Linked DNA regions of Homo sapiens: all the other regions are reported to be linked to region 5. Evidence: microRNA targets listed by miRTarBase, many of them from high-throughput screens and not tested one by one. Region 5 holds a microRNA gene; each other region holds the end of a gene's coding sequence.
Evidence for each region. Region 5 holds the annotated microRNA hsa-miR-6845-3p (CCUCUCCUCCCUGUGCCCCAG, at 3,531-3,551, shown strand). A microRNA usually pairs through its seed, bases 2 to 8, with sites in the 3' UTR of a target mRNA and lowers its output. Matches are read on the target gene's strand: a 7mer-m8 pairs with bases 2 to 8, a 7mer-A1 pairs with bases 2 to 7 and ends in A, and an 8mer does both.

Region 1 (6,120 bases), not on the chromosome of region 5:
ACACTTGGAAGAAAGAAAGGAGGGAAAGGCAGAAACTAGCTCCCTCCCCCAATACTGCAGGTAAACAGGTTTTTGCTTTGAATGGAATCAGCATTCTCTAGAATAAACAGTTTCTTGCCCTGGGCCATGGAAGGCTCCAGCAATCTGCTTCAGTGCCAGGGACAGGCTTGTGGCCGAGGGGCCTAAATCTTTCAGGGCTTTTTGCGCCTGATCACCAAGAGGTTGGAGAGGTGGGAGGGGCGCGGGGGAAACAGCTCAAAAGAAATGCCAGGTAAGAGCTCAATATTATGAAGTATTAAAAATCAACTGCTAAAGCCTAGCGAATGTCCCAAAGCGAGTCCAGGCGGTCCTGGAATGGAGGGGAGAAAGGCTGAAGTCGGGGGAAGGCAAGGCTTTGGGGTGGAAGGGGTGCATTACCTCCCCACCCCCGCTTTCCTTTCAGTCCCAGCTGCTCGAGAAGGGAGGGCGCTGGGAAAGGAAACAGAGCGGAATCGCCCACATTAGCCTCGCTCTTCGGTGACCCGGCGCCTCTGGGCTTGTGTGAGCGTCTCCTTTCTAATGCCAATGACAACGACACTGAGGGTGATTTTCTGTGCCTCGCCCACCCCTTTGCAGGCAACTTTGTAAAGAATTTACGGATCTACTGGCGCAGGACCGGACACCGATAGGGAACAGCCGACCCAGCCCCATCCTGGAGCCGGGGATCCAGAGCTGCCTCACGCACTTCAGCCTCATCACGCACGGCTTCGGCGCCCCGGCCATTTGCGCCGCGCTCACGGCCCTGCAGAACTATCTCACCGAGGCGCTCAAAGGCATGGACAAGATGTTCTTGAACAACACCACCACTAACAGGCACACGTCTGGGGAAGGCCCAGGTAGTAAAACTGGCGACAAGGAGGAGAAACACAGGAAATGAAAAATTTTTAAAAAAAGAAGGAAAAATGTTTTAAATACAAAAGGAAAAACAGACAAAAATTTAATTTTAGCTTTAAAATATTGGATTGGCTTTGGAAGAATTATATTAGGTAGAATACACATACAATCAAAATTTTAAAAAAAAAAGCTAAATAACTTAAAAAAAAACTGAGGCGTACAACGGAGCAACAATATCGGTTCTCAGTGTCTATTTCAAGATACATTTGGAGACAACCGTCCGGATTTTCCACTTCGGTTCTTTCGAGTTTAGTAATACTGATAATAAAAGAAAACCATGATTTCCCCTTCCCTTTGGAAAATAAACATAAGACTAAACATGAGAAAAACGCTAACTTATTGGAAGAAAATCGGAGAAACGTTGGTGTCAATGCTTTGAGAGCTGGTTGACTGAGACGCACGAACTTTTTAATTTTAAATATATTTTTAGGAAACTCTCGCAGTCCCCGCCCTCCATCTCACCTCACCCGTCTCCCAACCACCCTTTTCCATGTTACCCTCCCTTCCTCACATTGTTACGGGAATCTTCTGGGATGAAAATGAGTGTGGTTGGCCCTTTTGCGTTGTTTCAGTCCTCTCGGTACCTCCCCGCCCAGCCCTGCGATCTTAACTCACCGGGCCCGGCTCCCCGGCCGCTTGCATAATTAGGGAGGGCGAGGGCGGGGCGGGAGGCCTGTGGAGACCAGGCGGAGGCTGCAATTTTTGGTGCCGGCCGGCAGAGCAGGTTCTGGCGGCTGAGGAAAATCCGGACCAATAAGTTGATTCAAACATCATCAGTTCCTTTCAGAAATGTTACTAGCTCCCAGCCTTGCCAGCATCTGCATAGAGAGAATCTCACATTTATTATATTTGTGTCATCTACTAATTTTATGAACTATAGTAAAAAAAAAAAAACACACACACACACAATATGAATACGTTGATTAGTATGTAATTCCTTCGGAGGGGTATGTACCATTTCATTCTCTTCTGTTTTCCAAAGCTTTGCCCGCATGGTTTATGAGCTTCTTCAAAGAGGACTTGGGCTTCCTACACAATCTATAAGGTACAGAGAAAAAAAAATCCGATCCCTTTTTAATCAAAGCCTGTGTGTCAGAATTCTGCAGGTGCACTTCTTTAAAGAAGCTCAAAGGGAATAATTTAGAAAGTGGCCAATATGATGGAAGCAGCTTTGAATCTACATGCTAACATTCCTCAACACTCCAATTCCGGTGGAGGTGGCAGGGGAGGGGGTCTGCAAAATGAATTTTAAGGGAAAAGAGTAAGGATTCTTAGAGCCCTATATTCTAATAGTATTGCCCTGCATTTAAAATTGATTTGATTTCCCTGGGTTCTTTGGTGATTGCTGTTTAAGCAAGGAAAGAAGCAGCTTTACGAGTGGACGTGGGGAGGAGGGCGGCACAAGCACCCACATTTCTGTAACAATTGCTTTCTTACAAGATGCTTTATGAATGAGGCATTTTTCCCTCCCAGACGTGCACTTGTTTTGGCATATAATGGCAAAATAATGCAAAGTGAAGGGAGATGTATTTCAGCTTTGATTTTTACCGTCTGGATACATCGGGACTATTCCCAGTGGATAAAGTTTCATGCATTTAATATTTCTCACTTCTGGCAGCCCAGCTCCTTTCTTGGGCTCCATCTTAGCATTATCATGAAATAAGATCTGGAATCCATTGTCTGCACCTCCGCAAAAGCAGTGAGAAATTATCCCGGGATAAGGGTGAATGAGAGAGGTCTCTAAATATAGTGTTGATACACTCACCTATTTAACAAAGTAGACGAGATCTTTGCAATACCCCTTAAAGATAACGACATAGATGTTGTTCTGCAGGATTTATAGTTAGGACCCACTCAATTCTCCAGGACTCCCGGTTTTGCCCCCCTCCCGCTTTGCCTTGGTGGGGGTGGGGATTGGGGGAGTGGGGATTGCGTTGGGGTTTTAGGAATCTGCTGAGAGCTTTGCCCATTTTTATTAAAAGAGGAAAGGGAAGTTAGGAAGCTCGTCTCAGGTCACCAAAAGGGCCCAAGCAACTGTTAGGGCCACACTGCAGCCCATCTCCAACCCCTAGCTTCGTTTAGCACTTCTGATCTTCATGGCCCAGCCCTAGAACTGTTGAGAGGAATGCAATGGCCAAGAGCTAGACGTTACGGAGAGTGTAGTCACTCTCTTTTCCCAGCTCAGAGGCCTGCGCCTTCGTCCGAGAGCTCGGCCGATCGCATTAGATGTGTTCTGATTGCACAAGGCCAGGAGAGACCACACTGAAAACGATCGTCTCCTTTCCTTGCAGGGCAACGCGCCCCACGCGTGTGACGTGCGAGAGACGCGATGGACGCGCCTTGCTCTTACTGTGCAGGTCCTGAGAGCGTGTGGGCCACAGGCGCCCAGTCGTGTTGAGGACATAGAATCAGCCGCTGGAGGGGCTGCCGACTGCGCGGGCCCTTCCCGCTCTCGGTCTCACCCTAAGGGCTAAGGCGACCGAGAAAGCCCCATTCTCCAGTAGGTAATGGGGCGGCGCCCGGTGGGCTGCAGGTGGGGAGGGCTCCCAGCGCCGCCAGCGGCCACCCGGGGCGCCGGCTCCTGGAGGGAGAGTGGCCTAGAAATATCCAAGGAATCCGAAGCTTCCCCTCCTCCACCTCTGCCAGTACGGAAACACCCCACCGTCACAATCCTAAAGCGGGGAGATGGGATGGGAATTGTCTTACTTGGCAAGGCAGGGTACCTTCATTGCCAGACGCCCTCATTTGTGTGTTCCTCCTTGCTCCAGCGAGATAGAACCTTTTGCGCCCCCAACCCCGTTTCGTGGAGTGAGCCCACTACCCCTTCTCCCTCCCTCACTTCTCCTTTCATGTAGGACCCCCGCCCCCTTGCTTTCCTTAGCCAGGCCCGCTACATTTATCTGATAATTGAGTTATTAAAAGATTTGGTTTCCTTGGGCCTATAAATCAATAAACAGTAGGATTAACGCAATAGTTTGCCTTTTAAGTCAAGGGAGACGTTTAAGGCAAGCCCCTTTGAGCTTTGTTTTCAAACCAAACAGGTGAGTTGCAGCTCTCCCCCCGGCCCCTGCACTCTTCAGACATTTGGTCCCTGCCCACTCCTAAACGCTCAGTCCCAAAACAAAATAGCGAAAGACAGGAGGAGTCAGGATGTGGCAGTGCTGCCTTCACACTTTCCACTTCGCAAGTTCTTTTAAAGGTTCCAAAGATCTCCAGACCATTCTCTGCCAAACCCTGCCGCCTCCTGCACGTATTGCAGGTCTCTGGGGAGCAAGAAATGTCCTGTTTGGGTGAGGATTCCGTCACCTAAAAAGATCTTTAACTTCTCCCCCAAAGTGGGAAGGTAACTTTCTCCCCCTTTTCCCCACCACCTTCACTCCTACACCCCCAATTACCTTGCATTTTCTTTCCTTCCTTCTGGCCTCCACACCCATAGCTTTCCTCCATCCCCACTTAAAGAACCGAAGAGGCTTTTAAAGACCTGGCTGCTTTGTTTTCCTTGGCCAAGGAAGCCACTTTCTCTCAAGCAATTATTTCATATCCTACGAAAACTTTGGTCGAATGGAAAACTCGAAACCTCGAGCTTATCTACACACTGTTCCTCTGCTACAATGCTTTCCTAGTTAAGAGTGTTTATAGAGAATTTGTCATCACATCTGATATCCTGTACTTGTAATACATTATGTGGAAAGGAAATAACCTTAAACCGTCTGATGTTGCCTCAAGAGCCCAAACGGCGTTTCCCCACCTTTGACGATGTATGTGAAATTACTGGCTTAAAAAAAAAAGTATCAATTTTTTTTTAACGGAATGAACACTATCCTTCTTTAAATGCCAAAATCGACTCCACCTTTGAGTTGGTCTCTAATTCTCTAACATTGTTTTTGCCACACAATCAAGAAATATCAATCTATTGACTCTTCACGAGAAGAGCTCTGGAGGGTATTCATGTTAAGTTTGTATATATTTATTTATGCTTAATTTAATGGGAATGTGTAAATATGGCGAGCAAGTAGTTTGGGATTATTTATCTGTGAATCTATACCTCTGTGAATGGGTGGTTAAAAAACCTCTTGACCCTAGATAGAATCCTATCTGAATTTTTCTGTTCTTTATAAACAAGCTGTTATGGTAATGGGTAGAAATTGGTTTATTGTCCAGTGTTAATCTGATTTACATAAATAAAAAGATTGTTGTGTTTTCATCTTCAGTTTCTTAAATGTGGACAATGTTTTTAATTCTACCGACAGAGGAAAAGTGTAAGAAGCTTTTTACTTTTTGTCCTCCCCCATCGAAGCACCCACAGCGTTTTCATTACAACAGAAATATAATAAATTTTGCTTCTCAGAAAAATGAACTTTTTTTCACTAGGAGAAGTGTTTTTGATTTTTTTAAATTCCAAATTTACATTCTTCTCTCCTATTTCTAACCAGATTTGCAATAAAAGCTAATGTTAACTGAATCTTTTGGTTTCTTCTGCCCTTTACAAATCGAGGAGTCAAATTTACTTCCCAGGTAACTAGAGGACTCTGGGTTGCTGTCAGAGATGATGCTCCCTTCCCACTGCTCGTGGGTTGGCATTCTGGCATAGTGTTCTAAGAAGGAGATGGTGCACGGTGCAGGAGAAGTCTTCAGGGCTGGGTGTGGGCTCCTGCACCCCTCAACTTGGGATATGAAGGAGTTAACCCCCATTTCAGAATTGAACCCGACCCTGACCTCATTAGCAGTGCAAGGCCCTCCATAAACAATGGAGGAAAAAGCTCCCTCAACTGAGAAGAGGAAAAAAGTGTACATGTCTTAGGAAGTTGGGGGGCTCCTACCCTAGGCTCAGAGGCTGCCTAGAGAAGCCAGAGCTTTTCACACCTGGGTTAATAGGCTTCAGCTGGGCCCTAATGGGCTGCAGTGATCAAACATCGTCTCAATCTGTATTTTATTCCAAGGCTTAGGTGTCTTCCTTGAGGCCAGGAAAGCAAAATCACCCACGATGTTAAACAGTTTGGATGAGTCACTGCTCCTTTTTGCGCCTCAAGGTCTTTATCTGTAAAAATAAATATGGACCTCCTAAGGTCCTTTACTTCATCAATATTGCCTATAGTTTAATTATAAAAAGCAGAAACAGCAACCTGTATATGAGTTTAAGGAGAATTGGAAACTTTAAATCATGATGATCCCAGATTTATATATCAG
Region 2 (6,120 bases), not on the chromosome of region 5:
GCCTCCTTCCTATTCCTACCACTGTCTGTCTGCCTGCCTCCTCCCTATGCAGCAGCCACGTCACATGATCCCCGTTCCTTGGATGGCCTATAAGGTGGTCTTCCTCTAGTAGCTGGGCCCTGTCCCTTCCCATCTGACAAACTCTTGCTCAGCCCACGTGGCCCAGTTTAAATGTGCTCTGTGCATTCCATCATCTAGTGCTTACCACATGATCATAAATCCCACTGGTGTATGTGTGTGTCTTTCCCAAGTTGGAGTGGGAGTGCCTTTGACATGGGACTGTGTCTTTCCCTTTCGGCATCTTGTATCTTCCCCAGCATCTCTGGCTCTCCAAAGCCCCCAGTAAATGTTTGAGTAAGTGAAACATGCAGAAGACATGAAGATTGTTAAGTAACAAATACTCAGCAGAAAGGGCTGTTAATTTTAAAAAAAGAAGAAAAAGAAAAGAACATCAGATATTCTAAGACAAGTATTTGTAGAGGGAATCACTAAAAGCTTTCAGTTTTGAAAGCAAATATTTAATTTAGGCTCCCCCTTCTGTGTGCTTACAAATGGCACTAAATTCAGTATAATGCTTAATCTACATTTTGAGATTTACTATGGGACTCATGGACTTTAAGAAAAAAATGTAGTTCATTGTAAATGCCTACATTTCACAGTCGTTCGTTTCTTTTAACACACACAATTGGATTGACAAAGGTAATGACTTCCTAGCTAGCCATATTCAAAAGAAATGTCAAAAATTTAAATTTATAAAGCTCTCTGTGAAATGTTGTGATGCCCCAATCAAATGACCCTCCTGATCTTGCCCGGCACCCTTTCCCTCTTGGCTGCTGGCGCCTTCCTGTCTCATTGCCAAGGACAAGCCACGTCTGCATGTCTCTATCCCACCCCTCACCACTTAGAATTCTTGAAACCTCTGGGGAGGCTGACCAAGAAGGACAGAGGACCCTATATTTGGGCTTCTGGAACCTAAGTGCCCCAGGGCTCAGAGCTCCTATTAGTGTTATTTCACATTTACTACAAGTTTAAAAAAAAAAACACACAACGGTGATGATGACGGTGATTTTTGTGTCTTGTCCATGAATCACACAATATTATTCTAGGGGGAAACGTACCCTGATTTCAAACAACTCATCTAAAAGTACAGATTTTGGAACATGACCTACATGTTTACAGTGCCACATGAGACTACACTCAGACTCATGGACTTTTTTCCTTTTTCAATTACTAACTGCTTTAGTCCTCTAAACGTGGATTCTTCTTTTTTTTTTTTTTTTAAACCAATACTGGGTCTAACTCTGTGGCCCAAGCTGGAGTGCAGTGGCACACTCATAGCTCACTGTAACCTCTAACTCCTGATCTCAAGTGATCCTTCCTCCTTGGCCTCTCAAGTAGCTAGGACTACAGAAACATGCCACCATGCCTGGCTTATTTATTATTTATTTATTTATTTATTTATTTATTTATTTATTTATTTATTTATTTATGGTAGAGATGAGGTTTCACTATGTTTCCCAGGCTGGTCTCCAACTCTTGGACTCAAGTGATCCTCCCACCTCAGCCTTCCAAAGTGCCGGGATTACAGGTGCCTGGCTCTAAACATGGATTCGTTAAAAGCTTGCCCTATTTCTTTTTTTTTTTTTTATTATACTTTAAGTTTTAGGGTACATGTGCACATTGTGCAGGTTAGTTACATATGTATACATGTGCCATGCTGGTGCGCTGCACCCACTAACTCGTCATAAACATGGTTTGTGTTTGCAATAGTGCACTCCTCATTTTATGCTGACTCTGATGGGAATGTAGGACTCAATTGCTGAAGTTGTCATTACAGCAGACTTTCCTGGAGGCCTTTGTTGTTTGTCAGGTTGCCTTCTCCAAAAGGGGACAGTTTGCCCATGTGGGATGTCCTGCCCCAAGCATTTCTAACTGCTCTTCCATCTCTGTCCTCCCTCTGCAGGCTGGCCTTGGGTGACCCTCTCTGTCCTGGGATTCCTGTACTGCTACTCCCACGTGGGCATTGCCTGGGCCCAGACCTACGCCACGGACTAATGCTGTTGGGCCCAGGCCAGTCCTTGTTGCTGGCCTCCAAGGCAAATAGTGCTTCACCCTGACCTCTCACTCCAGGACAGCCTCTAAGGGATTTGATCTGCTCATCTTCAGTTGAATGCCCTCACTCCAAGACTGGATGCTGGATCTCATAGAAAATTCACAGCCAGACAATCTTCTAATCTGGAGTCTTTGAGATCTTCTACCCCAACTCATCATTTTCCTATTGAGGAAACGGGTCCAGGGCAGTCGTGTGTCTTACCCAGCTACACAGGGTGACATTTTGGTCTAGAACCTAGTCTCATGAGCCCTTTGCATTCTTTCCCCTTAAGCAAGAATAGAATGTAGTGGAAATTTATTGATTGAGACACAGAAATCCTGATTAGTGATAGGCCTGTCTTCTGGGCAATATTTCTAAAATATTTGAGTGACATTGATGTTTAAGTGACCTCCTTCATCACATCCTGCAGTATCTCCAGAAGCAGCACTAGGGTTTGAGTTTCATGCTTCAGCCCCTCTGTAGGAATGAGACCAAGCCACAGCTGTCTTTTGAATTACGTAGTCGAAGAAGACGGTAGCAGCCCTGTAGCATTCTAAGGCATCTATACCCAAGGAGTCCTGTGATCTGAGCTTCAGCAGGGTGATCTACATTTGGGTGCTTGTTTCTGAGATTTGCAGAGAAGTATAACATGGTAGTTCCTCTACCTTACAGTTAATCGTTTCTTAATAAAGAAGCAGAATTTAGAAACCACAGGATAGTGTACCCACAGATGGGTGTTATCAAGGCCAGTCATGAGGATGGTGTCCTGGAGTCTTGTCCACCCTCTCCATACAAGTCTCAAAAGTCATCCTCCTACTCAGTGATTCACGTTTAGTGGTTTATATTATTAAGGTTTGATTCAAACAGAGCCTTTTCTGTCCTGTAGATAATCTACATGTTTGTAGAATTATTTTGAATATGTTTGAGGAAAATGTTTAAAATCTAAATATACTCACATAACTTGATTATTCACTCCTCTGAAAAGATGCTGGATAGGCTACCAAAGTTCCCAAGTGGTAGATAATTCAGAAGACTTGTTTGAATTTGGATTTTTTTTTTTTTTGGAGTGGGGAAGGGTATAAAGGAGGCTTAAAATTTGAATCCATAATATATCTAATTACAGGAGAATTTACAACATCTCAAGTACGTAAATTAAGTTGTCATTGAGTGAAAGGTTCACTTGGACCTAGTGCTGCCTCCTGTTTATTACATAGCATGGCCCTTATGTCTTGAGTTGAGGTTATCATCTCAATGAGGCTTTAGCTCCTAGAGTACAGGACCATTTTGTTGATTGTCTTTCTTCATAGCTTCTCTGCTTGGCAAAGAGATGGGAGGGGGCCAGATACTGACTACCTGGGGTAGGCACATTATGTGTTAAAGCAAGACAGAGGCCAGAGAGGGGCAGGTAGACCTGCATAGCAGCAGCCTCAGCAGCTGTCTTGGTAAAGGAGAGAGAGAGACATGGGGCCAGTAATTCCGGGGTGCTCAGAAGTTTTAGGAGGGGATGAGCCTCAGGGAGGAGTGAGCACCTAAATGAACGCAGTAAACCTTCATGGACCAACAGTGATTGAGGATTTGTGGGCAGCCAGAGGGAGTCTGACTGAAGTTTACTTGGAAAGAAAGGGCTTGCTAAGAAAAAAGGGAGTAAAAATGATGATAGGGAAGTGTCTAATGTATGTGCACATATAAGTAATACAAAAGTTTTGAGCTCTTCCAAGTATACCATTTATATACAAACAAATAGGTTTATTCATTCATTAAACTACTTTGGAAGCGTCAGTGGATATATTTGAAAGTGGTAATCCTGAATCTCTTTTAAACTATTATATGATTCATAATGGTTCTCAGGAATTAATAAATGATTACTGTGTTTAGCTCTGTATTTGAGGCTGATTAATTAATATGTGGATTATCCAGGACCATTGTTTTGCTTAACCTCTTCCTACTCCCCACTTGTAATATGAAAATGATAATGCTTCTCTCCTCATGCATATTCACTAAAATCTTGTAGTTACTCTGAATGGTGGTGCCTGGGCGCACAGAGGAGTTCAGGCAATGACACTGGACATGTCATCAGCCCTGGGCAACTTCAGGCGCAGTGTTGGGAAAAGAATAGACAAGGTCCCAAGGTCAATTCCAGCGCCTGGATCCTCTGATCCCAGCCTCGCTCTGCAGGCAAGCCCAAGAGCTCCAAGCACAATCGCCAAGATGCTACCCAAGGAGGGAAGCAAGATACCTGAAGGACACCCAAACCTCAGTCATTCTAATTCTTGGGACCACACAAGAAGACTGAAAGGTATTATTTTTTCAAATTAATTTGAAGTGTCAGCAGAAAACATTTTGTTTCATTAAAGACAGCAGGCCTCAAGAAAAAATAAATCAATGAACAAATAATTGTATTATAATCTATATACTGGGAGAATAGCAGTTTAGGTAGGGGAGGGGGTGGCTTCTCCTGACAGAAAGTGAGACTGCTCACTTGCTTATTTAGAATAATAATATAACCATTGACTAAACATAGTAAATTAACCGTAATATAATGAGTTTGGTTTTTAGCAGATGTATCAGAATATATCCATACAATAGGGTTCCCTTCAGTGTGGACAACATGAGAAGCCAAAGTATGATACTACTGGCCTCAGCACATTTTGAGAAAGCCTCTCTGAGGCTTTCTCAGGGAAATGGTTTTATTTTAAAACAAAAAACCCTCTTTTTAAAATCATTGAACTCCATTTGGCACCCAAAACATGGCATTCATTACTTAGCTCTATATTACTCGTCCTTTTGACTAATTACAAGAATCATATTCACAGAGATGTTTTGCAACATTGAAGAGATCAGACAGAATGCTTTAGGTTGTGTGTGGTGGCTCACACCTGTAATCCCAGCACTTTTGGGAGGCTGAGGCAGATGGATCACTTGAGGTCAGGAGTTTGAGACCAGCCTGGGCAACAGAGTGAGACCCTGTCTCAAGAAAAAAAAAAAAAAGAATAATAAGTTATTAGTGATAATTTTGAAACATCAATAATTTGGAATTTTAAACAATATCACCCTTATTATTTTTATAATGCTTTTGTGCAATTTGATTAAATCATGGGTAAGGAAACATTAAAAATACTGTACCCCTACTGTGATCCTATAAGATCAAGTAGACGCTTGTAGGTCAGATTCCTCATCTCCTAATTAAGTTATACTGTCTATAATAAGAGAAGTGCCATGTTTGTAATGTGGTCCACTGGATGGTAAATAAGGACTCAGGTTGGCAGTATTGTGGAGCCTTGCCATGAGCAGGAAGCAACACCGATTAAAATAGCAAAACTGAAACCATGCTGGTGTATGGGACTATTTCGATTAGAGGCAAGCTAACTTAATAGCTTCTGAGACTATCAATGAAGTGTAAAGCACAGATCAGAGCTCATATTGTAGACACTGAGTCATTCAAAAAAGATTGTTATATTCTTCATACTACGTTTTAAAAGGCAGGAGGGAAGCATTAATATATTTTATACAAATTTCAATCCAAAGTTTTCAAAATAAAAAAGTGTACATCTAAGTGGGGTGGGAGGTGTCAGCTTTGGGTATCTCAGATCCGTGTGTCATACAGTTTTCCGTGATCCCAGGCACTGAAGTCAACATCTGTGCCCTTGTACAGCAGCTGCAGCTGTACTTTAAGATTGTACAGCTGCATACCTTCATGTCCATTCTCTCACTATTTGGTACTTTGACACACAATCTTGGTGAATCTTGGACTTTAAGTTCTCAAAAAACTATAAGTGCTGTCCAAATAAGAGCTTCCCAAACTCTTGAAGAGAAAATACCATCCTTGTTCTGTCATCTTAGGTCAGAACAGCCAATTCAGTGACCTAAAAGTAATGTAAGGAAAGGCAAAAGCAAGTATCATGTATAAAATAGTTTATTACCATAATAAATAAAACTTTTTTTTTTTACAAATATCATTTGTGCTTGTTTAAAAATGTTGAGAAGGGAATATCATCAATGGAAGGGCCTGCACGTTCCTCTTAACATTC
Region 3 (5,775 bases), not on the chromosome of region 5:
TAATAGGACACATTTAGGATTAAATAAGTTTTACTGTGGGTCTGAAGAAACTCCCCTGGCCTCCACAAACAAGTTTATTGGGGGTGTGAAGGAACTCCCCAAACCTCTAATTTAGCAGGAGACAAGATAAGGGTAATTACCCCAGCACCTGGACCCATTTAGATTAAGTAAATTTACTGAGGCTCCAGAGGAAGGTCCTTAGGACTCAGACCTTCTGGGAACATAGTGACTATTCATGAAGTGATTGCTACCATCTTTTCTTTCAGGAAATCTCTACCTCAACAGCAGGTTTGAGCCCTCTCCTTCCCTCTAAGCAGCGGCCTCCCTTGCACAGCCCCTGAGGCAAGAAACCCCGTCTTATCCCTTCCATATCAGCTTACACCCAGGGGACCCTTGCCCAACAGGCAGTCTTCCTGGAGGAGGTTGGCAGTATGTTTAAACCAGTCCACAGGATCCATAGCAAGGCGCTTTAAGCAGAGAAGTCCATGTGCTGTTCAGACATCTGGCAGGAACTTGCCCTGCCAAAGGGATGCAGACTGTCCTTTTTTTTTTTTTTTTTTCTTTTGAGGCAGAGTTTCGTTCTTGTCTCCCAGGCTGGAGTGCAATGGTGCAATCTCTGCTCATTGCAACCTCTGCCTCCCAGGTTCAAGTGATTCTCCTGCCTCAGCCTCCCGAGTAGCTGGGATTACAGGCATGCGCCACCACGCCCGGCTAATTTTTTGTATTTTTTTTTAGTAGAGACGGGGTTTCTCCATGTTGGTCAGGCTGGTCTCGAACTCCCAACCTCAGGTGATCCGCCCACCTTGGCCTCCCAAAGTGCTGGGATTACAGGCGTGAGCCACCCCGCCCGGCCCAGACTGTCCTTGTACTAGCTCCCCTCTCTCCTCTCCTCTGTATCACACTGTAGTGTCACTGTCACTGGGCACTGTATCAAGCTTGATGGCTGAAGAGGCATCGTGTTAATGGTGGAGGGTGTCCAGGTTCTTGGCATCTTGAACAAAGAATTGGACAAAATGCACAAAGCAAGGAAGGAATAGTTTTATTGAAAATGAAAGTACACTCCACAGTGTGGGAGCAGGTCTGAGCATAGGGACTCAAAGGCCCCGTAACAGAATTCTGGGGAGTTTACATACCCTCTACTTGGGGTATGCCCTATGTAAATGAAGAGGATGAAGTGATAAAATCATTTACTTGGCCTACGCCCTATGGAGAGGATATTTCCTGTCATAGCTGAAGTGTGAATCAGCCTTATGTTCCTTGCCTCCAGACCCTATTTTCCTGCCTCAATTGGGCTGGTTTTTAGGATATCCATCTCCCTTTAATTGCACTCTCAAGTTTCACCAGTACTTCTCTCACCTCCTACCCCCAAGTGGAGTCAGCAAGGGCAACCAGGTGACTGCCGTGATTATCTTGTTACAGAAGATAAGAAGACTGTGGTTCTAAGAGATTAACTAACTGAAGCTTGTACTGCGTGTCAGTAGCATAACCAGGATTTGAACTCTGGTTAGCCTTCTCACCCCAAAGTCCATTACACTGCCTCAATAAATGTCTTTTACATACATATATTTACTAATAAGATTGTGTAATGACATTTCATTAATAAAAACGAGTGGGGTTTCAAAACAGATTGCTTTATGTCAGGTTGCTTTACGTCATAAAGCAAAACAGATTGCTTTATGTTTCCAAAACATATTTCATGGAGCATTAGTATGCCCAGAGATATGAATACGTATTCCTCAGAAATAACGAAAGAGGTAATGGAAGTAACTCTCCACAAGTAGAATGTGTGCTCCACTACACAGCCTGTCTCTGTTGGAGATTTAGAAAATAAATGGGTAAGATGAAGGACTTCAGAAGTCATGAAATAATAAAATCTGCTTATCTTTACTTAACTAAGCACATCTCACACTCTTATAACCACAGAATCCTTATTAAAACCATCTATGGGCTGGGTGCAGTGGCTCACGCCTATAATCCCGACACTTTGGGAGGCCGAGGGTGATTGCTTTAGCCCGGGAGTTCAAGACTAGCCTGGGCAACATAGCAAGACTCTGTCTCTACAAAAAATACAAAATAAAAAAAAAAGCCAGGCATGGTGGCATGCACCTGTTTGGGAGGCTGATGTGAGAGGATGGCTTCAACCTGGGAGGTGGAGGCAGTGAACCAATATCACACCACTGTACTCCAGCCTGGACATCAGAGTGAGATTCTGGCAAGAAGAAGAAGATAAAGACAAAGAAGAAGACAAAGACGAAGAAGAAGAAGGAGGAGGAGGAGGAGAAGGGGAAGAAGGAGGAAGAGGAGAGGGAGAAGGAAAAGGAAGAGAAGGAGGAGGAGAAGAAAGAGAAGGAGGAAAAGGAGGAGAAGAAGAGAAAAAGAAAAATTGTATTAGTCTGTTCTCACACTGCTAATAAAGACATACCCAAGAATAGGTAATTTATAAAGGAAAGAGGTTTAATGGACTCACAGTTCCTCATGGCTGGGGAGACCTCACAATCATGGCGGAAGGCAAATGAGGAGCCAAGTCATGTCTTACATGGCAGCAGGCAAGAGAGCTTGTGCAGGGGAAGTCCCATTTATAAAACTATCAGATCGCGTGAGACTCATTAATTACACCATGAGAACAGCATGGGGAAAACCACCCCCGTGATTCAATTATCTCCACCTGGCCCTGCCCTTGACACATAGGGATTATTACAATTCAAGGTGAGATTTGGGTAGGGGCACAGCCAAACCATATCAAAAATCAAACAATACTTAAAATAAAGAATAATGCCATTATTTTCACTTAAGTTGAGGCATGAAAAATTAAACATGCCTGTATTTAAATTAAGGAAAACAAAAGGATAACAGTAAATATGCAGCGTCTGTGTGTTCATCACAGTGATGGTGTTAACCAGGCCACAGGCTTGGTGAGACACATTTTTTCTCTGCTACAGGGACAAGCCTGCCAAGCAGATGGCACAGACATAGACAGACCAGTCTCCCCAGGTGCCTGAGAGAAACATGGCTAAGTTCTTACAATCCCATTACCCATTTTTCTTGACTATTATCAACCTACCCACACATTATTTTATCATGTTTTTCACCAACAAGGGAAAAGCCTGTTTTCTTCTATACTACATTCACATAATATTTCTGACACCAAATGTGTGGAGTTTTTTTCCCCATCCCAACCAATTTTCCAATTCTCTAGACACCAACAGAGTATCCTATATTTAATTGAATTCTGACACTAAATACCTAGAGTTGATGCAGACCCCACAGATTTAAGGGCTCAGTCCCATAAAACCATCCCCAACTTCAAACACCAGTCACAACTAGCAGGTCCCCAGGTTGCCCATACTTCTGTCCAACATGGCTACACATGGGGGTTCCCACAACCCCCTCCTCAGGTTTGATAATTTGATACGGCAATACAGAACTCAGGGAAATGCTTTACTTGTGTTTAACAGTTTATTTTAAGGCTACTACAAAGGATACAGATGAACAACAGCCACATGAAGGGGTACCTGGGGCAAGGTCCAGAAGCATCCTGAGCACAGGACTTGCTGACTTCATAAAGCTGGAGTGCGTCACCTTCCTGGCACATCAAAATGTTTGCCAACCCTGAAGCTCCCTGAACTCCATAGTTAACGGATTATGTCTTGTTGACATAGGCCTGATGGATTATTGACACAAATCTCCAGCCCCTCTCCCCTCTCTGGAGGTGGGAGACTGAAAGTTTGAAACTTCCAATCATGATGTGGTCTTTGTGAGCAGCCCCCATCCTGAGTTATCCAGGTGCCCATCAAGAGTGACCTCATTAGAACAAAAAATTCTCCTATCACTGGGAAATTTAAAGGAATTTAGGAGCTTTGTGTCAGGAACTGGGGTCAAAGACCAAATACTAGAACAAAAGATGTACTCCATCACTTTGGAAATTACAAGGGTTTTAGGAGCTCTGAACAAGGAACTAGATAGGAAGATCAAATATATATTTCTTATTATATCACATTATCACATCAACTCAATGTACATTTATTACACTTTCATTACAGGTTGAAGTTTACAGACTGGTGTACACTAAATGCATTTCAGGTAAGCTGCTCCCTAAGGACCTATACGAAAGCCCAATAATCAGATGATAAACTGTCTCCAAATCCAGCTTCCAGGAAGTTTACCTATAGACTGAAATGCCATCGATGGAATTTAGACACTAGTGATCTTTAAGTCCAAAGGGCCTGGGTATCCTAACCTCATCAGCTTGATCTTTTTCTTCCAATATCACATCTGTACCCAGTCTTTTTTTCTTTTTTTCTGAGATGGAGTCTCGCTCTGTTGCCCAGACTGGAGTGCAGTGGCACGATCTCGGCTCACTGCAACCTCCACCTCCTAGGTTCAAGCAATTCTCCTGAGTAGCTGGGACTACAGGCGCATGCCGATCTGTACCCAATCTTATTAGGGTCTGCAGCATTGTTCACTCAACACAAAAACTGGACATGAGCATTTTTTAGTTCCATTATGTGCCTAGTACAGAGGCGTATTCAGCAGGTAGTTAAATATTTGGTGAGAGGAGGTGAATCTTGAAAATATATAAGTTGGCCGGGCGCGGTGGCTCACGCCTGTAATCCCAGCACTTTGGGAGGCCGAGGTGGGCGGATCATGAGGTCAGGAGATCGAGACCATCCTGGCTAACACGGTGAAACCCCATCTCTACTAAAAATACAAAAAATTAGCTGGGCGTGGTGGCAGGTGCCTGTAGTCCCAGCTACTCAGGAGGCTGAGGCAGGAGGATGGCGTGAACCTGGGAGGCAGAGTTTGCAGTGAGCCGAGATAGCGCCGCTGCAGTCCGGCCTGGGTGAAAGAGCGAGACTGTCTCAAAAAAAAAAAAAAAGAAAAAGAAAAAAACAAGAAATAAGCTTTATCCAAAAAAGTTTTATTTTTATAAGAAACAAGAATAGGTCAGGTGTGGTGGCTCAAGCCTGTAATCCCAGCACTTTGGGAGGCTGAGGAGGGTGGATTGTTTGAGCTCAGGAGCTCAAGACCAGCCTAGGCAACATGGTGAAACCCCATCTCTCCAAAAAATACAAAAATTAGCCAGGCATGGTGGCGCACGCTTGTAGTCCCAGCCATTCAGGGGGCTGAGGTGGGAGGATCACTTGAGCCTGGGAGGTTGAGGCTGCAGTGAGCCATGTTTGCGCCACTGCACTCTAGCCTGCGTGACAAAGCAAGCCCCTGGGTGACAAAGCAAGATCCTGTCTCAAAAAAAAAAAAAAGGAAACAAAAAAGATTAAAAGTTAAAAAAATTATATATAAGAAAATTATAGAAATAGCCTCTATACTCTATACCCTGTTGGTATGTTCAAAAGTTCACAAGGGACTCAGGTTATAACATAACGAGTAAGTCCTCCCCCTCGGACCTCTGATAGCCTCCGGCAGTGTCGTAAAATATTCAGTAACACGTGAAACTTCTTGTCAGCTTTCAAAGTTGTGAACTCCTTTATGTCAGCTTCCACTATAAAATAACGACCTAAAAATAAAGATATTAGTGCTAATTTTTATAAGGCCAACTTGCAAAAGAGTCTTTAATACATTAAGTTGTGAATATGAATGGTATTAGTCGTTTTTACTGTTAGTATCCAATAAAACCAAGAACTAGTATTCTTGCTAAAATAATAATTATTCTATCAACAGAAGTTGCATGCATGATATTTATTAGGTCACTAGCTATCTGTTGGTATCGCTTGAACAATTCACTTTTCAAGAGGCAATGTGACATAGTGGTTATAAGAA
Region 4 (6,120 bases), not on the chromosome of region 5:
TGCTCTGTTCTTGTCATCTTGAAATCCTAATAACTTTGAACAAGGGGCCCCACATTTTCATTTTATACTGGGTCCCACAAATTACATAGGCCGTTCTGAAGCACAGAATCCTGGCCATGGACCATGGGAACTTACTCGTCTCTGGGCCTCAGATTCCCCATCCGTGAAAAGGGGCCAGGAGAGAAAGGACTTTGACTTTGACCTTTGGCTTTTTATACTCTAAGATCTAGAATCCACAGTCTGATCGGAGCTATGTAGAACTGCATAACTTCTGCAACTTATTTGAAAATAAAAAATAAATGGAATCCCAGTGCTTTTTGGTTTATCAGTGCACCTCTACCCTCTCTGATTCATGGGATTTACACAGCTGGCCCGGCCCCTGGGGTAGGACAAGGAAGAATGTGAGAATTGCCACCTGACAGATAAAGCCTGGCCTATGCTGGTTTCCTCATCTGTATGGTGACAAAAACACCTGGTGCAGTTGTGAGGAGATGATGGCATGTACACAAAGCATGAGGAACACATAGCCATAGCTGGCCGCTGCATTACTGTGAAAGGCATAAAGAGGCTGGTGACCCTGCTGACCCATGGTGGTGAGCTGGGCCACAGCTGACGGTGAGTACCTACTCCATGACCCTGTGGATTACCGGGTGTCGTTCTGTGATTCTACAGTCCCAGAACTTTACAAAATTCTTCAGTTCTGAGTGCGAGTTATAAAAAACAGACTCAGACTACATGGCTCTGTAATCTACTTCATAACTCCATGGTTGGATGAGGGCGGGAAAGAGCACTTAGAGGCTGCCATTTTGTGCCAGGCACCGTACTTGGTTCTCTACAAATGTTACTTCATTTCTTCTACACACAGTCCTGTGGAGGGAGATATTTTCCCTCCCTCCCTCCCTCCCTCCCTCCCTTCCTTCTTTCCTTCTTTCCTTCTTCCTTTTTTGCTCTTTCTTTCTTTTCTTCCTTTCTCTCTCCCTCCCTCCCTTCCTTCGTTCTTTTTTTTTTCCAGGGTCTAGCTCTGTCACTCAGGCTGGAGTGCAGTGGTAGAATCTCGGCTCACGGCAGCCTCAACCTCCCAGGCTCAGGGAGGTATTTTCTCTTTCTTTGTTTGTTTCTCTTTCTTTTTTGTCTTTCTTTTATTTTTATTTTTCTCTCTTTGCTTTTTTTTTTTTTTTTTTTAAACAGGGTCTAACTCTGTCATCCAACCTCCCAGGCTCAAGCTATCCTCCCACTTCAGCCTCCCAAGTAGCTGGGACTACAGGCGTCACCATGCCCGGTTAATTTTTAGATTTTTAAATTATGTTGCCCAGGCTGGTCTTAGTCTTGAATTCCTGAGCTCAAGCGATCCTCCTGCCTCAGCCTCCCAAAGTGCTGGGATTACAGGCAGGAGCCATCGTGCCCGGCCTTGAGGGAGATATTTTCATCCCTATTTTCCAGGCTCAGAGAAGTAAAGTGACCTGGCCAAAAATCACACAATTGGTTAGTGATGACCCCAAGATTTCAACCCTTTTCTGTGAATTCCAAAACGGATTCTTTGCACGAATTTTCCTGATTGTGTAAGATTCGAAGCCCTCGCCCTGGGCGCCAGGGTTCCTGGAGGGCGGAGTCCGGCAGGGCGAGGGTAGTCTGGTGGGCGGGAAGGGACTGGCCGCATAAAGCAAACAGCGCAGCCCACTTTGGCCTCCAGCCGCCCCGGTCCTGGCTCTTGGCCCCGCTGGGATCTGGGGTGTCTGGCCATGCGTGAGCACGAGGTGGCGCTGCGGGCCGGGAGCCTCCGCACGGGCAGGGAGGGGCCGCGCGGACTCCCGGGTCGGCGAGGCCCGCCGGGGCTTCCGCTCTCCTTATGGCTGGCAGGAGGCCAGGGCTGCGGGGTGCAGGGCAGGTTCCCCACGGGAAGGACGAGCCCGCCCAGCGTGATGGCATCCGCGCCCATGCTCTCACTGGGCCTTCACCCTGCCCCGTTTTGCAGAGGAGGAAGCTGCAGCTCGGGCGGAGGTGACCTGCTCCAGAACTGATTGCCGCAGAAGCCCCCTCCTTCCCTTCGCTGCCCTCCGCACGCTTTGGCCCTGTCTTTAAGGCCTTTTTGTTCCATGGCCCTCCCGCAAGGACTCCTTCCACAAGCGGGGACTTGGGAAGACCCGGACCCATTGGGTGAAAGTACCGTGATCCCTACCTCCATCTGAATCCTCTCCTGTCCCAGGAAATGTAGGGGAAGTGGAGAACAAACAGGAGGACTGTGGGGGCCCGGGGTCTCACCCTGACCTCCCTCTCCTCCACACCGCCCGGCGCCAAGCCTCAGCTCTTTCCTACCTTGACCGCTGGGTGCCAGCCTCGGACCCAGGGCCTCAAGCTGATACTTCTCCCTGGGGAGGCCTGATTACAAGATGGGCAAGCTCCCACCAGTGCATATGGCCTGAATGTTCTGGGCACAGAGTAGGGATCAGGAAAAACCTGTCATTGGTGATGATGGTAGACATTCCCTGTAGACTGGCCAGTTAGAAGGAAGAACTTGGTGACAGCAGAGCCACCCAGATGAGCTCCAAGTGTGATCTCTGTCAGTGGAAGTGTGCAAACAGGAGCTGGGGTACCATAGCAGCTGAAGCACCAAGGAAGAACAAAATACTGTTGCAGTTCAGAGGAGGGAGGTGGAAGGGGCCAAGGAAGCTTCTGCGGGCGGGCAAGAACTAGGTCTACTGGATAGGAAGGAGGTTGAGAGACAGGGGTGAGGGCAAGGGCAAGGTCCCACAGTAACGCCTGAGCAAGAGAACAGGTGTGCAAGGGCCTGCATGCTCATGGCTATGGCTGGAGCTGGGGTGGCAGGAACAGTGGGGTAGGGCCACGGGAGATGAGAGGTGAACAGGGTGCAGGAACTCCCTCCTTCACGTCACCTTACTCCCCAAATCCTGAGATTATCAGGCTTTTCAGGGAGAACAAGCTGCCCAGGGCAGGGCCTAACCTGATTCATCTTTGTGGCCCCAGAGCCCAGCCCAGGGATTGCCAGTGGACACTGGCTGAGTAAAGCAAAGAACTTTTTATAGTGTTTATTAAATCAAGGACCGGTTAGATAGATGATGGGCTAGGCAGGTGGGGGAAGACAGAGCTCACTGCCCTGTGGGGTCTCTGTGGGGCCAGCCCCTGATGCCCATGTGGCCACTGATGCCCAGCTTCCCCCAACACCCCAACACAGGCCCAGGACAATATTACAAAAGTGAACAAATGCAACCTTTTTCTGCTTTTACAAATGACATGTCTCCATCCCCGGCCAGCAGGGGTAGGGGAGGCCGGTTGAAAGTGACACTCCGTTAAAAAGGCAACAACTTTTATAAAATGAAGACTAAGGAAACAGCCCAGGGTTCGGAAGCTGAGATGCTACCCTGGGGGTAGAGCATAGACATGGGTCGGGCAGACCTTGTCTCCTTTCACGGCATTCCTGGGAGGGTAAGAAGGGCTGTCGTGCTCAGGGCCAGTGGGGACTGAATCCAGGAGGCCCCTTGGAGATCCCAGCCAGATGAGGCTCCAGAACTGCAGCAACTCCTTGGGGCAGCATCTAGAGGATGCTCAGGGGAAAATGGGTAGGTTTCCAGTCTGGATGCTGGGGGACCCCAACCCAGGGTGAGAAACTGGCTAGGCTGGAACCAATGTGCCCTAAGCTTCCAGAGGCTCCGAAGGGCAGAGTGACTTAGCCCATGCCGCACAGCTGGTCAGAGGCCCAGAGTCCCACTTGTGAGGCTCTTGCCTGTCCTGCTGCTGCTACTCCTGTGCTAATGGGGAACAGGCAAGGGCAGCAAGGGGAGCCCAGGCGGGGAGGGTGGGGCTTATTAGAGGAGACAAGAAAGTGCATTGGGTCCGGGCTGGGAGGCAGGAGGCTGTGCTCCAGTCATGCCACTGCCCGCAGGAACTTAGATTAGCCTTTTTCCTTCTCAAGGCCTCAGTTTCCCCATCTGTCACATGAGAAGGGTGGACTTGATTCTTTGCAATTCCTTCTACCATTAAGGTTCTAGGGAAATAGAAAAGGATGAAGCGGGCCTCATGGCCTCATGGCAAAGAAAGGGCTATGTTAGAAAAGAAACTCGCCCCTGAGTGACTGGGCCATGGGCCCAAGGGGACACTCAGCCCAGTGGACCTGAACTCTGCCCTGCAGCAGGGGGTCCCACCCACCCTCTGCCCATTGCGGGTCAGGCCGGCCCAGGCATGAGGGAAGGCACTTGGGGGATAAGTGGGGAAGGGAAGCAGGAGGGGACCCGAGTCTGGTTTGGCATCGAAGTCCCTCTGCTCATGGTTTGGGGAAGCAACGTAGACAAAGGGGTGAGACTTTGCTCCTAGGTGTGGCTCCCAGGTCCAAAGCCTCTCCTAGGCCCACAACTCCTGTGGTGACGCTGCCACATAGGCCTGCGGGCTCCCCACTGGTGTTGGCACATTGAACATAAGTTACTCGGGACCTGAGGCAGCCCAGGACAGCAGTCTGTTATGTGGCCCTGGGCCACACCATTTGTCACAAGATGGTGGGGCCCCTGGCAGCAGAATCCCGGGTGTCTACGCAGTGCAGGGCCACCTTGGGGCTGGAGCCAGGCCTCCGGGGGTAGGTGCCCTCCCGCACCAGGCGCCGGCACCGCACATCCTGGCCCACGCTGACGCTCTGCAGTGCCGGGAGGTGGAGGAGCAGCGCCTCAGGCAGGGGCACCAGGTTGGTGCCCGAAAGGTCCAGCTCCTGCAGGGAGCTCAGGCCTGAAAACACCTCAGCTCCTGCCCAGTTAAGCTTGGGGTTGCCCGACAGGTCCAGGACCTGCAGGCCCGGTAGCTCACGGAAGCCACTGGGCGCCAGCTCAGGGAGCCTCTGCAGGCTGGCCAGAGACAGGTGTGTAAGGCCTCCCAGCCCCGCGAAGGCACCCGGACCAATGACAGCTAGAGGGTTCCCATCCAGGCTCAGGTAGCGCAGGGGCAAGTCTCGGAGGTTGGGCACGGCATGGAGCCGGTTCCAGGCCAGGTTCAGGCTCTGAATGGTGGGCGCAGGCAGGCCGGCCCTCGTGGGGTGGGGCACGAGGCGGTGAATGAGGTTGTGGGAGAGGTCCACGTGTAGTGCCCGGCCCTGACTGTGCGTCGTGAAGGCAGACACTGAGACCTCCCGGAGCTGGTTGTGGCTAAGGTTCACGTCGCTCAGGGGTGAGCTGGTGAAGCTCTCGGCTGGCAGGGCTGTCAGGCCATTGTGGCTGAGGTCAAGCGACTCCAGGTAGCGAAGGCGGGAGAAGGCAGTGGGTGAGATGCTGGTGAGCAGGTTGTGGCTGAGATCCAGGCCAGCCAACGTCGTGTAGCCCGGCCCCGCCAACACCGACTCATTCACCATCTCCAGCCGGTTGGAGGACAGGTCCAAGTGGGCTGTGTCCAGAGGGATGGGCACCGGCATGATGTGGGGGCCCAGGCCGCTACAATCCACCCGAGTCAGGCTGAAGCTGTCGAAAAGGCCGAAGGTCTCCACCTCGCATTGGCACCCGGGGAAGCATGGCCGGGTTGTCTGGGCCCCACTCACGGCCAGCAGCAGCAGCAGGGGCCACGGCATGGTGGGGGCTAGAAAGAGAGCCACAGGTGAGGAATGAATGCACCAGATGGTCTAAAGCCACCACACAGGACATGAGCCCAGTCTAGACACTGTTGGAAGGTGTCACAGACCCCGACCTCCTGGAATGCTTCCTGGAACACTCCCCAGAGTTCCTAGTCCCAGTTCTTCTCTGGCCTCTGCCTCTCCATTTGTATGGTAAGGGGCGTGAGGCCAGGTGGTGAATTTTCAACTAGAAGCAGCAGATCCCTTTCTTAAACAAGAGCAGCAGATGAAGGCGGGCCTGGTCTGGCTGAAGTGAGGGGGACCTGAAGCCCTCGACTTCTGCCCACCATCCCTGCCTAGGGTGTTAGGAAACCCAGTTTGAAACCCACCAGACTAGACGGTTTCTCGGGCTGGCCTCTCCAGCTCTGATGGTCCAGAGTCCCTGGTTTGGTCTAGACCTCGGGCCCCGGGTGAGGGGCTCATCCACAGGGCTGAGGGTAGGGTGTGCCCAGGGTGCCCCACTCTCTGCTGAGCAAGTGTTACACGTCAGGCACTGTTCTGGCTGCCCCACAGCATGGTCG
Region 5 (6,120 bases):
AACGGGCGGGGGCGGGGACTAAAACGGGGCGGGGATTCGCGGGGGTGGGGCGGGTCCTGGGGCGGGGCTTCGCGAAGGAGGCTTGGAGGACGAGGAGGGGACAGGGCCTGGGGAGGGGCTTCGCGGAGCAGGCCTGGGAGACGAGGAGGAAACAGGGACTGGGGCGGGGCTTCGCGGGGCGGGGCCTCCGGGGGGGCGGGGCCTGGGCGCGGCCCGGGCTCGGCAGCTCTCGGGGAAGCTCTGCTCTGGCTCCGGCAGGCACAGGCGGCTCGGGAGGTGCGCGCCGGCTCCGCCCCCGGGCCCCGCCCGTCCGCCGCGCGCCCGCGCCTCCCAATTCCCAGAGCCGGGGCTGGGGCTCTAGGCTGCCGCGGCGGCTCTAGGCTGGGCTGCTGGGCGCGAGGCCAGGGCGGGCCGGGAGAGGCTGCGCCGGCGGCGGATCGCGCAGAGGGCGGTGGCCTGGGCTGGCCGAACCATGGCGGCCCCGGAGCCGGCGCCGAGGCGGGCCCGGGAACGGGAGCGGGAGCGGGAGGACGAGAGCGAGGACGAGAGCGACATCCTGGAGGAAAGCCCGTGTGGTCGCTGGCAAAAGCGACGGGAGCAGGTGGGCGCGGGGGTTGGGGCACGGGGTGACACCGCCCTCCCAGAGCGGGAGGGGCCTGGAGGCTGCGCGGGGCGTGGGGGCGCTGGGAGAGCGCGGCGGCTGGAAACCTCTCCGCGGCCCCTCGCGGCCCGCGAATCAGCCACCCCTGGACCCCTTTGGCCTGGCGCTCGCCCTGGGACTCCCTGAGGGCCAGTCTCCTCCCAGGACCACCTCCCCATGCCTCTGGACTCAGCCGCTAGCTTCCTGGGGATCCCCCTCGACCCCCTGAAACCTGCTCCAAATCCCCTTAGCCCAGCCCTTGGATAGGAGCCCTTGGCTCCTGGGGGCAGCTACCCTCCAAGCCCCACCTTCCCGCAGAGTGGCTCAGGGCCTGCAGCCCACGCTTGGGCCCACTGGAAAGGTGTGGACAGGGACCAAATCCTCACCCACAACCCTGACACACACCAGGGCACACATAACCCTTTATTCACCCCCAGGTAAACCAAGGGAACATGCCAGGGCTTCAGAGCACCTTCCTAGCCATGGACACGGAGGAGGGGGTAGAGGTGGTGTGGAACGAGCTCCACTTCGGAGACAGGAAGGCCTTCGCGGCGCACGAGGTGAGACCGCTGCCCCCTCCTCATCCTGCTTGGGTGACCACCTGCTGACCACCCAGCGACCACCCTCCCTCCCCAGGAGAAGATCCAGACCGTGTTCGAGCAGCTGGTGCTGGTGGACCACCCGAACATCGTGAAGTTGCACAAGTACTGGCTGGATACCTCTGAGGCCTGCGCGAGGGTGAGCACGGGCAAGGCCCCGGGCAGGCAGAGACCACAGCTAGGTGGGGCGGGCATGGGGACGAACCCGCAGCTGGTGGAAATCCTGAGCTCGCACCGTGCAGGTCATCTTCATCACAGAGTACGTGTCATCAGGCAGCCTCAAGCAATTCCTCAAAAAGACCAAGAAGAACCACAAGGCCATGAACGCCCGGGTATGGGGAGCGGGCTGGGGCAGCCACGGGGACAGGACGGGGTTGGGGCAGCCTCGGGGACTGGGATGGTGAGGGGGTGCCCGGCGGCCTCGGACAGGGGCTGGGCGAGGATGCGGGGCGGGCTCCGCAGGCCCAGCCGCCTCTCCTGCGCCCACCCGACCGACGGAGTCGTGCGTCCGCCGCCAGGCCTGGAAGCGCTGGTGCACGCAGATCCTGTCTGCGCTCAGGTGAGGGCCTGGGCTGGCCTGGGCGCGGCGCCACCGAGCCCCCATCTCTCCAGAGCCTCCTGACCGGCTCCTCCTACTCTCCCCTCCCCAACGTCTGCAGCTTCCTGCACGCCTGCAGCCCCCCAATCATCCACGGGAACCTGACCAGCGACACCATCTTCATTCAGCACAACGGCCTCATCAAGATCGGCTCCGGTGCTGGCGGGGCAGGGCTGGGTGGGGGAACGGGGCAGGGGAAGGTGCCTGGAGCCAAGGGCAGAGGAGTTCTGATGCCCCAGCAGCTAACTCCACTCTTTCTCCCGCCCCTTGGCAGTGTGGCACCGAATCTTCTCCAATGGTAAGTGCGGACTTTGGGGGGACGGGGTCCTGGAGAGGTCCCCGCCCGCTCAGCTCTGCGCCCTCCCACAGCACTTCCAGATGATCTCCGAAGCCCCATCCGCGCTGAGCGAGAGGAACTTCGGAACCTGCACTTCTTCCCCCCAGAGTATGGAGGTGAGTGGTGCTGGGTCCGGGTGCCCCGTGCCTACCCTGCGCTTCTCTCCTACGTGTCCTGTGCTCTCTTCTGTTCAGAGGTGGCCGATGGGACCGCTGTGGACATCTTCTCCTTTGGGATGTGTGCGCTGGAGGTACTGCCCCCGCCCTCCACCTTGTGCTCTGCCCTCCTCCTAACTGTGCCCTGCCTGGCTCACCTGTGTGGTCCCTTCCCCATGCCTGACCTGGCTCTGTGCCCCAGATGGCTGTACTGGAAATCCAGACCAATGGGGACACCCGGGTCACAGAGGAGGCCATTGCTCGCGCCAGGCACTCGCTGAGTGACCCCAACATGCGGGTAAGCAGCTTGCCCTGCCCCTCCCCAGCTGGCTCACCGTGCTCAGCTAGGGCTAGCAAGGTGCTCCAGGCAGACCTGGGAGAACATCACAGTTTGTGCAGTTGAGGGGTATACCAGCTGACTGCACCCCTCCCAAAGAGGACCTCAGTGGGAGCACATACTGGTTCCAGGCCTGAAGGCCCTAAGGGGTCAGCACATTCTAAGGACAAGAAGGCAAGAGAGACCCTCCCTCTGTGGCTGCCATCACCATGCCCGTTTTATAAAGAAACCAAGGTTCAGAGGAGATGAGTCCTTTGCCCAAGGCTTTAGAGTGAGTGGTGGAGCCAACATCTGCACCTGGGTCTGCTTCACTCCAAGTCCTTGACTTTAAGCTTCCAGGAGGTGATGAGGCTCCAGCTTGTGGGGGGACATGGTGGGTGCCAAGCAGGCAAAAAGAGGTATGGGATGGAAGCTGCATCCACAGCCCCCTCTGCTCGGAGTCTAGACTTAACTCCATGGCCTCAGGAGATGGGGGTGCCTGGTCGGGGCTGGTGGCGAGCTGGAGCCGGGCTGGGCACGGATGTGGACAGAGTGGGGACCCATCAAGGTCGTCTCCAGTGTTGGGCCCGAGCTGAGCCGATCAAAAGGCCATGGGTAGGAGGCTTGCAGGTGTGACTTTAGGATCATGGCTTCTCCCCACGATTTTTTGGGGGTCGAGGGAAGCAGAGCATGGTGCTCCAATCCCAGAACCCAGCTGTCCTCAAGCTCAGAGGACCAGGTCCTGGCCTGGCTGCTGCTGCTGGGACTCCTCCCTATGGGCATCCCTGCATGTCCTGTGTGTCCCTGAGGAGGGACATGGGGAACTCAGGGGCCACCTCTCCTCGAACTGCGGGGCCAGAGCAGAGAGCCCTTGCACACCACCAGCCTCTCCTCCCTGTGCCCCAGGAGTTCATCCTTTGCTGCCTGGCCCGGGACCCTGCCCGCCGGCCCTCTGCCCACAGCCTCCTCTTCCACCGCGTGCTCTTCGAGGTGCACTCGCTGAAGCTCCTGGCAGCCCACTGCTTCATCCAGCACCAGTGTGAGCAGCAGGCCGGCCCGGGGGGTGGCTGGGGAGGTGGAGGTTGGGACGTGGAAGGGGCCCTGCAGGACCCACGGCCTGAGCACACCGCCTTGATGCTCTTGTGGCCGCAGACCTCATGCCTGAGAATGTGGTGGAGGAGAAGACCAAGGCCATGGACCTGCACGCGGTCTTGGCGGAGCTTCCCCGGCCCCGCAGGCCCCCGCTGCAGTGGCGGTGAGCAGTCAGCACCCAGAAGCCTCCCCTCCCCACACCTCCCCTCCCCGCACCTCCCCTCCCCTCGCCCCGGCCAGCCCCTCATGTGCCTCCCACTTCCATGCCAGGTACTCGGAAGTCTCCTTCATGGAGCTGGACAAATTCCTGGAGGATGTCAGGTGAGAACTGATGTAAGGTTGGGGGCCAGGCAGCTGTCAGGCCTGAACCCCCAGCCACCCTGTTGTGTCCCCAGGAATGGAATCTACCCACTGATGAACTTTGCAGCCACTCGACCCCTGGGGCTGCCCCGTGTGCTGGCCCCACCCCCGGAGGAGGTCCAAAAGGCCAAGACCCCGACGCCAGAGCCCTTTGACTCTGAGACCAGAAAGGTGAGTCCCCTCTCCTGCTGCTCAGTGCCATCCCTCAGACCTTCTAACAGCCAGATAAGAGGTGCCCCTCCTTCTCTTAGGGCCTGCATCCCCACAGCCCAGCTCTCCTCCTGGCTGCCAGAGACCAGATCCAGGCTGACCCCCTTGTGGGGGTCATGGGGGTTATAGGACAGGCTGGGCACTCTCCTTTTCCGGGAGGCTCCCTGTCCCCTCAGATCCTTCCCCTGCATCCTGCTGCCTGCCCTGAACCTACTCCAAGCATCCTTCCTCCAGAACTCACCCGGGCTCTTCCACCCTGCCAGCAATCTTCCCCCACCCCCGCACCCCTCCCACCCCCCCCACCCCTCCCATCCCCCACCTGGTGCTGATTCCCGGACATCTATGTCCTGGTGTCTCCCCAGACTTTTCCTGCAGCACCCCCTCCTGGCCAGGGGCCTCTCTCGGTGCAGTGCAGCCAGAATTCATGTCCTAACAGGCAAACTGCCTGCTCCTGGCTGCCAGCAGAGATCATGGGAGTCCTCAGCTGACACCCAGGCTCTGGGAGGCCTGATCCCGCAGGCACCGTGCACTTCGGCGCGGTCCTGTCCCGCCCAACCTCCCTTTCCCCACGCCCACAGTTCCCTCTTTGTTCAAGTTGTTCTCTCCGCGGTGAAAGCTCCTATTCAGCCTTCAGTACCCAGCCCCTAATGTCGACTCTTCTCGAAGCTTTCCTTAGCTTGCCAAGCCACTAGCAGTGAGATGGGCTCCTCTTAGAGATTCCCCCCTTTCCAGTCTTTGCTGTCCCTTCCCGGCCCCTTTGGGGCCGCGGCATGTGGTCTTGCTGCTGGGTTTGTGAGTCCCAGCCTTCCCCCGCTGCAGGTCATCCAGATGCAGTGCAACCTGGAGAGAAGCGAGGACAAGGCGCGCTGGCATGTGAGCGGGGCCTGGGAGGGCGGCGCTGCCGTGGGGAAGGCGGGAGCGTGGCGGAGCCCTGAACCCCCAGCCGACCACGCCCCGCCGCCTCCCCAGCTCACTCTGCTTCTGGTGCTGGAAGACCGGCTGCACCGGCAGCTGACCTACGACCTGCTCCCAAGTAGGCTGGGCAGGGGACTTGGGCGGCGGGCGGTGACCCCAGGCGGCGGGTGGGCAGCGGCCTCATGCCTCGCCTTACGCCATTGCCTCAGCGGACAGCGCCCAGGACCTCGCCTCGGAGCTCGTGCACTATGGCTTCCTCCACGAGGTGCGCTGGGCGGTGCGGCGCGGCCTGGCGGAGGGGGCGCACGGGGCAGGCCGCGCCCCTCCGTCCCCCATGCCTCCCTCCTTCCGCAGGACGACCGGATGAAGCTGGCCGCCTTCCTGGAGAGCACCTTCCTCAAGTACCGTGGGACCCAGGCCTGACCCGGAGCCCCAGCCCCAGGGGACCATGCCGGGGTGCTGCCTGGGCAGGCCATGTTGGGGAGACTCCAGCACCGTGGGGCTGCCCTCCTCCATGCGCCTGGGAGCACAAAGGCCCCGGTAGTGAAGGAACCCCCCGTCTCCTGAGAGTGGGGCTGACCCTGCCTTGGGCGCCGAGGGGTTGGGGGGTGGGTGTGGGGGAGCCGTTAGGCCTCCCAGGTCCTTAGGATCAGGGTTGCCCCCAGAACCCCTTCCCATATCCTCCATTCTCCGCCCTGAGTTCCTACCCAGGCTGCCTGGCCGGGGCCACTGCCTCCTCAGCATGCAGGAGGCTGCCCTGTAGGGAACCCCAGCTCTGGGGCTTGGGGGTGAGGGTCAGCCCTGGACAGACCTCTGCCCAGGGAACTGCTCCATGGGGTCTGGGAGAGCAGCCATCCCCTGCTGGCACCATAGACCCACACAAGGAGCCTGCACAGCA

Region 1: the mRNA of TFAP2B is a reported target of hsa-miR-6845-3p. Seed matches in the 3' UTR shown: 8mer at 3,183-3,190.
Region 2: miRTarBase lists HHAT as a target of hsa-miR-6845-3p. Seed matches in the 3' UTR shown: 8mer at 3,539-3,546.
Region 3: miRTarBase lists SKA1 as a target of hsa-miR-6845-3p. Seed matches in the 3' UTR shown: 7mer-A1 at 5,055-5,061.
Region 4: the mRNA of TSKU is a reported target of hsa-miR-6845-3p. Seed matches in the 3' UTR shown: 7mer-m8 at 4,349-4,355.

Annotation. Positions count from the first base shown.
Region 1 is chr6:50,842,477-50,848,596 of GRCh38, forward strand. It overlaps TFAP2B (transcription factor AP-2 beta), which reads left to right. Exons shown (of 7, transcript NM_003221.4): 7 at 616-5,143. The coding sequence ends at 916. Among named protein-coding and RNA genes, the nearest start is that of TFAP2B, 27 kb to the left of the region's middle. RefSeq lists an enhancer at 78-583.
Region 2 is chr1:210,672,325-210,678,444 of GRCh38, forward strand. HHAT (hedgehog acyltransferase) reads left to right here. Exons shown (of 12, transcript NM_018194.6): 12 at 1,964-3,966. The coding sequence ends at 2,055. KCNH1 (potassium voltage-gated channel subfamily H member 1) reads right to left here. Exons shown (of 11, transcript NM_172362.3): 11 at 5,990-6,120. Among named protein-coding and RNA genes, the nearest start is that of HHAT, 350 kb to the left of the region's middle.
Region 3 is chr18:50,391,836-50,397,610 of GRCh38, reverse strand. It overlaps SKA1 (spindle and kinetochore associated complex subunit 1), which reads right to left. Exons shown (of 7, transcript NM_145060.4): 7 at 3,443-5,512. The coding sequence ends at 5,364. Among named protein-coding and RNA genes, the nearest start is that of SKA1, 20 kb to the right of the region's middle.
Region 4 is chr11:76,795,054-76,801,173 of GRCh38, reverse strand. TSKU (tsukushi, small leucine rich proteoglycan) reads right to left here. Exons shown (of 2, transcript NM_015516.4): 2 at 3,030-5,565. The coding sequence starts at 5,557. The coding sequence ends at 4,496. Among named protein-coding and RNA genes, the nearest start is that of TSKU, 15 kb to the right of the region's middle. RefSeq lists a silencer at 1,736-1,995 and enhancers at 4,978-5,883, 5,884-6,120.
Region 5 is chr8:143,835,187-143,841,306 of GRCh38, reverse strand. MIR6845 (microRNA 6845) reads left to right here and starts at 3,491; the gene lies at 3,491-3,551. It overlaps NRBP2 (nuclear receptor binding protein 2), which reads left to right and starts at 334. Exons shown (of 18, transcript NM_178564.4): 1 at 334-601; 2 at 1,078-1,200; 3 at 1,277-1,378; 4 at 1,482-1,571; 5 at 1,758-1,798; 6 at 1,899-1,993; 7 at 2,112-2,135; 8 at 2,207-2,290; 9 at 2,369-2,424; 10 at 2,532-2,627; 11 at 3,552-3,684; 12 at 3,798-3,900; 13 at 4,008-4,058; 14 at 4,133-4,268; 4 more. The coding sequence starts at 473. The coding sequence ends at 5,645. RefSeq lists a silencer at 1-432 and enhancers at 1-447, 3,759-4,486.